Linked DNA regions of Homo sapiens: region 1 is linked to region 2. Evidence: fine-mapped expression QTL. A gene starts in region 2. The other region holds a variant in brackets. All regions are shown on one strand. Distances are between the middles of the regions. Region 1 holds the start of LOC105378316 (a long non-coding RNA gene). Region 2 holds the start of UBE2D1 (ubiquitin conjugating enzyme E2 D1).

Evidence for each region. PIP is the estimated chance that this variant, and not a neighbour inherited with it, causes the effect.
Region 1: its variant is the best candidate, but not a certain one, in a credible set for the expression of UBE2D1 in blood mononuclear cells (TOPMed, PIP 0.62).

What each region holds. Positions count from the first base shown.
Region 1 is chr10:58,428,916-58,434,154 of GRCh38, reverse strand. LOC105378316 (a long non-coding RNA gene) reads right to left here and starts at 229. Exons shown (of 5, transcript XR_945984.3): 1 at 114-229. The variant C/A (reference allele first, on the strand shown) is at 3,200.
Region 2 is chr10:58,331,966-58,337,204 of GRCh38, reverse strand. It overlaps UBE2D1 (ubiquitin conjugating enzyme E2 D1), which reads right to left and starts at 2,199. Exons shown (of 7, transcript NM_003338.5): 1 at 1,980-2,199. The coding sequence starts at 2,003. RefSeq lists a silencer at 1,815-2,334 and enhancers at 2,142-2,436, 2,035-2,535.

The DNA.
Region 1 (5,239 bases), 97 kb before region 2:
AATTACGCTGTTAGAAGTCAGGATAGAGATTATTCTCGGGGGTTAGGAGTGGAGTATGGGGAGGTCTTCTGCCCTTCTAGTAACTTTCCATTTCTTATGTAGACACTACTTACCCTGATGTGTTCAGGTTGTGAGCAAGTTATGCACTTTTCACTTTTTATGTTATGTTTTAATTAAAAACTTTTTAAAAAGTCATCTTCTCGTATGTGCTACAATATGGATGAACTTTTGAAGACATTATCCTGAGTAAAATAAGCCAGAAACAAAAGGATAAATATTGCATGAATTCACGTATGAGGTTCTTAGAGTAGTCAAATTCATAGATACAGAAAGTAGAACAGTGGTTGCCAGGGGATGGGGGGATGGAATAGTGGATGATTTGGGTTTAATGAGTTGAGAGTTTCAGTTTATGATCGTGAATAAGTTCTGGAGATGGATGTGGACGATGGTTGCATAACAGTGAGATTGTACTTAATGCCACTGAACTGTACCTTTCAAATGGTTAAACTGGTCAATTTTATGTTACGTATATTTCACCATAACTTAAAAAGTCATATCATTGCAGACTTTCCTGATCACCTCACATAAATGGTACTTAACATAATAGGTTCTCAGTAAATGTCTGATGAACCAACACATTTTCCAGGAGATCTGAGGCAAGTTATGAAACACTTCTGTAAATCTTTCCTTTAGTTATTTATTTATTCATTCATTATAAAAATCTTTATTAAGCATTTATGCATATATTTTGGGGGAATTAAAAAGTGAAATGAGACAGCATGTTTTTCCAGAGATGAAACTAGCTCTTGCAAGTAGAAATGCATTCCCAGCCTTTGGCTAGCTCTCGGCTAGAGGCTGGGTCAGAACAGCACATAGATTTCAACTCAATGTGACAGATCAAATTGTTTAGTATTAGCTGCTTCCAGAATTTGTTGAAAAGGATTCTGAGGCCCATCAGGGCTCAGCAGTAAAATAAATATCATTAAAAAAGAGTTAGCTTTGTGAACTTGGACAAGTTAAAAAAATTAATAATATTTACATGAGACCTTGAAAGAGGCGTGATGGCATGGGTATTGTGGGTTTTGCTATCCATCCTTAGGCTTGCTCGTGTCTCACCAAGAGTGTTGCAGATGTGAATCAGAAATCAGACTCAACCTGAACTAACAGATGATTTCCAGGTCTTTTTCACCTGGGAGTCTTTGAGAATAAAAATGAGTCCCAGTGCTTAATGGTCCTCATGGAGCTAAACAATAAGCTGCTCTAGTTTCTTTTCTACAAAATGAGAGGAATTATTACTGTTATTCTATTCCTTGGTTCACAGACATATTAGGGAGGTGGAATCCCTAAGATAAACTCTAAACAAACACACATTTGGATGTCCTTTTGAACCTTGATGAGAGCAAAAGGAATGAATATAAGATAATGAAATTATTATTACAACTGACATTTTTGAGAATCTATTGTGTACTATGTAATACTTTAAGTATCTAAGGTAGCTTGTAGCATCATCTTTTTTTTTTTTTTTTTTTGAGATGGAGTCTCACTGTGTTGCCCAGGCTGGAGTGCAGTGGCACGATCTCGGGCTCACTGCAACTTCTGCTTCCCGGGTTCAAGAGATTCTCCTGCCTCAGCCTCCCAAGTAGCTGGAATTACAGGCGCCCACGACCACGCCAGGCTAATTTTTGCATTTTTAGTAGAGACGGGGTTTCACCATATTGGCCAGGCTGCTCTGGAATTCCTGACCTTGTGATCACCCTGCCTCAGCCTCCCAAAGTGCTGGGATTACAGACGTGAGCCACCATGCCCGGCCATAGCATCGTATTTTAACAACAAACTGATATGGTAGGAATTCTTATTCACAGTTTACAGAAAAGAACACTAACTCATAGAAAAACTTACAAACTTGCCCTAAGTCACATTGTTAATAAATACTTGATCTGGGATTGAACCCACATCTTTCCACACATCACAGAGACACTGTAGGAACTTGGTACTGCTTCTCAGACATTGCAATCCCACAAAAGGGCAAGGTCAGACTTGCTGTTAAAGGCAAATGTCCAAAGCACCTGTTCCCTTGCCAGATGTTGATGTTCTTGTCCTCTCTGCCAGCTCCTATCCCACAGGCAATCAGGGCCCTCACACTGTCCACCACCCTTGTCCACACACTCGCCCTGACTGAAGCCCTGAGGGTTCCCAGATCCCGCACCTGCCTTCCCACCCAGGGCTTTGTGCCTAGAGAGCTGCTCTTAAGCCCTTCTCTGAGGTCTTCTGAATACCCCTACTCCATCATCAGTCAAAACAGCTGTGTTTTTTTTTTTTTTTTGCTATACCTGTTAGGCTTCTGTTAAGTTGAACAATAGGAAACTGCTGATATTCAACCATATTGCCTGCAAAAATGTCAATTTCATATAATTCAATATAATACATAAACTTCCTTGTAAACAGAAAGTCTGTGACTAAATAATCTGAAAGTTATTGCCCTAGGCCTTTAATGAGCTTGATGTTTTGCTTGGCCCAGTAAAATTAAACTCTGTTCCTTCTCAGACATAACTTGTTAGAGAATAAATGGGTACAAGCCCTCTCCAGGGCAATTTGTCAAAACATATTTCTTAAAGCTTTCCAGTTTTGACATCCAATGAAGCAGCAAATTCACTTCCAGGAATCTATTATAAGGAAATTATTAAAGAAACAAAAAATATTTAGCCACTAGGATGTAAACATCTTTGTATTAATAGTGGGAAAATGTAAAACATACCCACCTCCCACACACATAAAACTAAATGTTCAATATCAAGAGTTTGGTTAATTAACTTACAGTATTTTTATATAATGCAATACTATACATTCATGAAAAATTATATATAACCAATAAAAAAGAATTCAGTAAAACAAAAAAGTAAATTTAATATTGAATGAAATAATCAATAGCTTTCCTATCCACAAGTGTAAGCCAGTTAGAATATATCATGAAAGAGAAGATCCCATTTAAAAAACTACAGGCCAGATGCAGTAGCTCACACCTGTAATATCAGCATTTTGGGAAGGCGAGGCAGAAGGATCACTTAAGGCCTGGAGTTCAAGACCAGCCTGCACAACAAAGAAAGACCCTATCTCTATGAAAAAAAAAAAATTAGCCAAGTGTGGCACACACCTGTAGTCCCAGCTACCCAGAAGTCTGAGGCAGAAGGATTGTTTGAGC[C/A]CAAGAGATCAAGGCTGCAGTGAGGCATGTTCATGCCACTGCACTCCAGCCTAGGCAACTGAGCAAGACCCTGTTTCAAAACAAAAAACCAACAACCAAAAAACCATAAAATACCTAGGAAGAAAATGGAACATGAAACATACAAAACCTATATGAGGAAAAATTCAAAACATTTCAAAAAGACACAAAGTTAAACTTGAATAATTGGGACACATAATAAATTCTTGGATAAGGAAATTCATTATCATAAAGATGTTAGTTCTCCCGAAGTTAACCTATTTATTTATTTATTGTGATTCCAACAAAAATGCTAATAAGATTTTTCATAAAGAAGACAAAATTATTCTAAAGTCGCATGGATATACCAAAATCAACTGAAGATGGATTAAAGACTTAAACAAAAGACCCAAATCTATAAAAATACTAGAAGAAAACCTAGGGAAAATTCTTCTAGATATAGGTCTAGGCAAGAATTTATGACTAAGACCTCAAAAGCACAGGCAATAAAAACAGGCAAATGGGACATAACTAAATGAAAACACTTCTGAACAGCAAAAGAAAGAATCAACAGAGTGAACAAATAATCTGCAGAATGAGAGAAATATTTGGAAACTATCCTACATGCAACTAATATCCAGAATATACAAGGAACTCAAAAAACTCAATGGGAAAAAAAAAAACAAATACTGTCATTAAAAAGTGGGCAAAGGATATAAATAGACATTTTTTCAAAAGAAGACATACAAATGGCCAACAGGTATATGAAAAAATGCTTGACGTCACTAATCATCAGAGAAATGCAAATTAAAACCACAATAAGATATCATCTTACCCCAATCAGAAGCTATTATTCAAAAGATAAAAGATTTGGGGGAGGGTGTGGAGAAAAGGGAATGCTTATACACTGTTGACGGGAATGTAAATTAGTAAAATCTCTATAGAAAACAGTAGGGAGATTTCTCAAAGAACTAAAAATGGAACTACCATTTGATCCAGCCATCTCATTACTGAGTATCTGGCCAAAGAAAGAGAAATCAATATATCAAAAAGATACCTGCACTTGTATGTTTATCAACTACTCACAATAGCAAAGATATGGAAGCAACCTAGTTTCCATCAGCAGGTGACTGGATAAAGAAAATGTGGTATATATAAAGAATAAAGTACTATTCAGCCATAAAAACATGAAATCATGTCTTTTGCAGGAACTTGGATGGAACAGGAGGGCATTGTCATAAATGAAACAAGCCAGACACAGAAATATAAATATTGCATGTTCTCACTTATAAATGAGTGCCAGAAAAGGTGTATATGTAAGTAGAGAGGGAAATGATAGACAATGGAGACTCAGAAGAGTGAAGGAGTGGAAGGGGATGGATAATTGGAAATCACTTAATGGGTACAAAGTACGTTATTTGGGTGATGGATATCCTAAAAGCACTGACATCACCACTATGCATGTAATAAAATTGTACTTATATCCCATAAATTTATACAATTAAAAAAATAAAGTCACATAGAAAAAAGGACAGGCAAGAACAGCCAAGAAGCAAGAAAGACAAGAGCAATGGTGGGGAGGGGAGCATAGCCATATCAGATATGAAAACATATTATAAAGCTTCTATAATTAAATTAGCATAATAATAGTTCACGACTGGACAGACAGACCAATAGAACAGAATTTTCTGAACAGAATAGAACCACCATCAGAGTGAACAGGCAATCTACAGAATGGGAGAAAATTTTTACAATCTACCCATCTGACAAAGGGCTTATATCCAGAATCTACAAAGAACTTAAATTTACAAGAAAAAATCAAACAACCCCATCAAAAAGTGGGCAAAGGACATGAACATATACTTCTCAAAAGAAGACATTTATGCAGCCAACAGACACATGAAAAAATGCTCATCAACACTGGCCATCAGAGAAACGCAAATCAAAACCACAATGAGATAACCATCTCACACCAGTTAGAATGACAATCATTAAAAAGTCAGGAAACAACAGGTGCTGGAGAGGATGCAGAGCAATAGGAAC
Region 2 (5,239 bases):
CTTTTCCAAAATATCAATTTGTCACATGTTTGATATCAATTCTATGTAAGTAATTTTTTTTTTTACTCAACAATTCTATAAACTAATAACCAATAAATACTAAAAAGATTTGGACACACGCCATATTATAAATATAAATCAAATACACTAGTTCAGCATGGTGATTGATGAGAACTGCCAAGGGTGGTATTTACAAATAATGTTCATATTTCTTTGAATATCCACTTACTGTGGACAAATTATACAGCTTAAGCTATTGTTAGTTGGGTATGGTGACTTGTGTCTGTAATCCCAGACTTTCTGGAGGCCAGGAGTTCAAGATCAGCATGGGCAATATAGTGAGATCCCCATCTCTTAAAAAAACACAATGAAATTTAAAAAGCTCTTGTATGTGCAAAATCATGTGAAAAATTCTCACAACTAGGAAAGAAGGAAATAGAATTTGAAAACTTCCTTGGAAGATGTGCATTTTCTGATCCAAATGTGAACCAATATTACTTCGTCATTAATAAGTATGCAAGGTATGGTAAAGATGCTAAGGCTTCAAAATTAGGGTATTTATATAAAACAATGTGTAATTGCGCTACCTTCAAACAAGAAAACATTATTACTTAATAAATGCTGATGCTGATTGTTAACTGTATGTTTTACAATGAGATGACCTTTAAATGGCACAAAAAATAACAGGTGATCCACAGATTTAGAATTTGAAAATAAAAAACTGGCAGGCTCTAAAAGTTGCTGTCCTCTGTACCTAAAGATGTCACCAGTGGCGAGTCAGAATGCAATGCGTACGTCACTATCACTGCTCTAACATATACTATTGCTATAATGGACTCCTGGTCAAAAAAGTGGATAAAAATGTGGGCATCAATTTCTTCTGAAACAACTACAAAATACACTGTCCATTGTTGCTTAACTTAGTGAAAAGCACTCCCTATTTAACAAACACATTCTCAATGTTGCCAGTGTGAACTGTAACTGTAAAACCTAAAACTTGGGTCAGTACACAGACCAACAAGAAATAAAAATGAACAGAAAGAAATGCCCGAATCTGAATTCTGAAGGATGTTCGCATCTGAAATGGTGGCAATAAATACTGTGAAAAAAAGACGATTCCATACACAGGGTTGAGATGGGTAAACAGTTGTTGGATGAAGATATATATTTCTTCCTCATTCTATACCCATGTGTCAAAGCATCAAAACAATTTATTTGCGACAGTTTATGTTGTGTCTCGAACTTTACATCTAAGTTTATCATGAGGGGGAAAAAAACCTGTTTGGCTTGACTCACCGTGAATCACAGCCAGGAGGTCATCTTGTTGTGTATCAGCAACTATGTTTTCGCTACAGCTATGTGACCTGAAGTGGCAGCAGCAGAGGCACCAAAATAGAAGGGGCAGGAGCCTTCTCCTGACTTCTTGGCCGCAAATGGGCTTTCCAGCCCATTCGGGCAACTGAGCAAGAGCCAACCGCAGAGGAGAGAAAGAACCAACCCGACAGCTCCGCGGAGAAAGGCTGCAGGCCCACCCCACCTTCCTTGCCCTCCCGGGGAGGCCGGGTAAGCAAGAACATAAAAGAGGACAGGCTTAAGAAACAGCCTGGAGAAAACACAGCATGACAGGGGTCAAAACTAGCCCCATGGAGGGCAAAACCCGGCCGTGACCGTGAAGCACAGATTTCGGGACGGTCTGGACGCGCAAGAGGCTCTCTACCCTGGGGCTCCGGGAGCGGCTCCGGCGCGAACGCGCGCGGGCCCCCAGCCTTCAAGCTCCTCCGGCCGCCTGGGACCTGACCCTGCTCCCACCTCACCTGTCCGATGCCCGCTGGCCCGGCCCGAGCCTTCAGCTCCCTGCCCGCACCCCGGCCCACCCTTCCATCCCTTGCTCTCCCCGCATGTCTCTCGGGACCACTGGCCGAGTCAGCGTGGGCAGGGGGCCGCTGCCCCGCAGCCCCAGGCCCGGCCCCGGCACTCACTTTCTGAATCCTCTTCAGCGCCATGGGTCAGGGATGGCGGTGGGGACACCGGCCGGCAGGGGTCGGCTGCGGGGCTCAGGGGCGTGGGTCGTCGCGGGTTGGGCTCGCTGGCAGCTAGGCTGGCTCCGCGCGGTGGGTCCCCGGTTAGCCGCTCCCTGGCTCGCTCCGGGCGCCGGTCCCTGCTCCGTGTGCGCCCGAGCGCGAGTGTGCGCGAGTGTGCGGGCGGGGACGCCGGCGAGACTCTTTTGTTTCCGCTTTTGCTTCTGGGAAGGAGCCTGCGCCCTCCCCGCCGCGCCCCGCCCCGCCTGGCACACTGGGAAGTGTAGTTCCAGCCCTGTCCTCGGCTGCAGGCCCCCGGACGCTGCCAGGTAACTTACTGCTGACCTCAGCCAGGCAGCTTAAGGTGAGAGCTGCCGGGGGCTGGAATTAGCCTCTACAGTCTCATTTAGAGCAAATTGCTGAACCTGGGGCTGCGCATCTGTAAAATGGGGATAACAAATGAGCTCCTAACGCACATAAAGGAATTTCTAAATCATCAGTTAGTAATTCCTTATCCAATAGGTGCCACAGCTGGTTTTATTATTTTTACCTTTAAAGATTTCACTGTCTTTTCTCAAATATATGGATTGTCTCACTCACCCTGCACACATGCACAAACTCATATCAGACCCCCTACTTACCTCCTTGGTTCTTATTGCAGAGGAAAAAGGTGTCTCTTCTGTCCAATGTGCAAATCTTCCTTGTCTGAGTGCATTGTCTGCTCGTAGGTATGCCCCTCCCATAAATTACCCACTTCGAACACCGAGTTCTGGGCTCTCACTCCCATCATTGGTTCCTTCCCTTCCGTTGACAGTCCCTGACCAATAGTCAACTCACGCTCCCCACTCTCCAATTCCTATGCACTTGTGTACCCATTAAAACTTGGCTTCTTGGCCAAGATGAGATTTGGGTGGGGACACAGCCAAACCATATCACTCAGGGATATAAAGATGGCAACAAATAGACACTGTGGACTACTAGAGAGGGGACCGAGGGAGCAAAGGTTGAAAAACTGTTGGGTACTATTGTCAGTACCTGGGTGATAAAATCATTCATACCACAAATGTCAGCATCACACAGCATACCCAGGTAGCAAACTTGCATATGTGGCCTCTAAATCTAAAATAAAAGTTGAAAAACAAAAACAAACAAACAAAAACAGAATCTTGAGCCCCACTCCAGACATGCTACATCACACTTTGCAGTTTAATAAGACTCCTAGGTGATTCAGATGAACATTAGGGTTTGAGAAGCACTATGCTGGAAGGCATAAGAGGAGATCCTAAAAATGCAGATTTCCTTTAAAGGATTTAATTTAGCAGTAAGTTTTGGGTGAAGCTCTGGAGTCTAAACTTTAGAACAAACTTCCCAGGAAGTTAGGATGCAGGTATCTGAGGACACTTTTGAGAATCTCCACCTTGAGCAAATCTTCAAATCCTTCTAAGCCTCAATTTCCTCACCCATAACTAATGCAATAAATGTTGTATTTGTTTAAAGGGAATAGAGCTGAAACTTTTGGTGCCCTTCTAACTCAAAGGTCTATGATTTGCACAAAAAATGGTGATTTTTTTCTCTTCTTTATAAATAGAAAGAAACCTAAAAAGTAAGCTTACAAGATTATTTTTGTCTTTCCTAGGGCAGTTTACCTCCCAACAAAAGAGAAATTAACACTTATTAAAAAAATCTACGTTGGTATCTTGCAATAATAGTTTACACTTTAAGATTGCTTTAAATGGGCTGGGCACAGTGGCTCACGCGTGTAATTCCAGCACTTTTGGAGGCCAAGGCAGGTGGATCACCTGAGGTCAGAAGTTCGAGACCAGCCTGGTCAACATGGTGAAACTCCTTCTCTACCAAAAATTCAAAAATTAGCCAGGCGTGTTGGCACATGTCTGTAATCCTAGCTACTTGGGAGGCTGAGGCAGGAAAATCGCTAGAACCTGGGAGGCAGCAGTTTTACTGAGCCGAGATGGAGCCATTGCACTCCCGCCTGGGTGACAGAGTGAGACTCCATCTCAAAAAAAAAAAATTGCTTTAAGCTTTTCAAAACATTTCACACACATTTTTGCAACATGCAAATACATGTGCAACATATAGTAGTTCAGTGTGTTATTTAATCTCCTACTCTTTCTCCCAGGATGTAGTTTCAAAACATAGTTTGTGATCAACTGCATAACTAATTCAAAAATGTTACTTAATGCTTACTATATGCCAGGCACTGAAGACACATGATAAAGAAAATAGACAAGATCCCTACTCACAAGCAGAACATCAAAATCCTATGGGGTGGGGAGGAGGGTACAAGACTTGTTAAAAATGCAGATTTCTAGGCATCAGGCCACACTGTCAATAAATAATCCTTGCCCTCTGAATTATCTCTGTTTGGGATATTATACTGCACTAGGTGGTAAAATATATGCAAAAGAAAGATTATATTTGGTCTTACCTTCCATAAACTTAAAATCTTCATGGTAGGAAGATAAATGCATAAAACAAATAAGTAGCAATGCAAGATATTCATTCATTCAGTCAGTCAGTCAGTCATGCAGACAACAGCAACAACAAATTTCAGGAAAATTTCCTTAAAGCAAAACAAATGGTGCAGAGGATAAGGGCTAAAGATGTTCAAAAGGGCATTGCCATGGACGGAGAGTAAGGGAAACTTTGTAGAGACAATAGAACTTGAATGCAAGACGCATTTGGAAAAGCAAAAGAATAGGTGAAGAACTTCCAATCGTAAGGAAATGCATGTGGAATGGACATAAGTATGAAATGCTCAACATGGAGGCCAAGCAAGGAAATACAACTAAGTCCAATGGTTGAGATCAGATAGTGAAGGACATTGACTGTTAGTCTTAGAAACATGAAATTGAGCTTAAATGCAACAAGAGGTTGTGTATCAGGAGAGTATTATTGTGACAGTGATGCATTAAATAGACAATTAGTCTAGTGGAGGGACATGGAATGAGGACAGAATCAGGAAAGGGAAACAAGTTCAATTACTATTGCAGTATTTAGGACCAAAATAATAAGGGCCTGCCTGTACAAGGTTGATAGCACTAGAAACCCAAAGAAGAACTTTTTGAGAAAAAAAAAAAAAAAAGCCATGGAACTTTGTTGCAATTACATACAGAAGTAGAAAAATAGAAGAGTAAATATGAACTCTAAATTTATGAGTGGTGGATTGAGTTAAAGGTGTTAACATTGATAAGCTTTTGGAG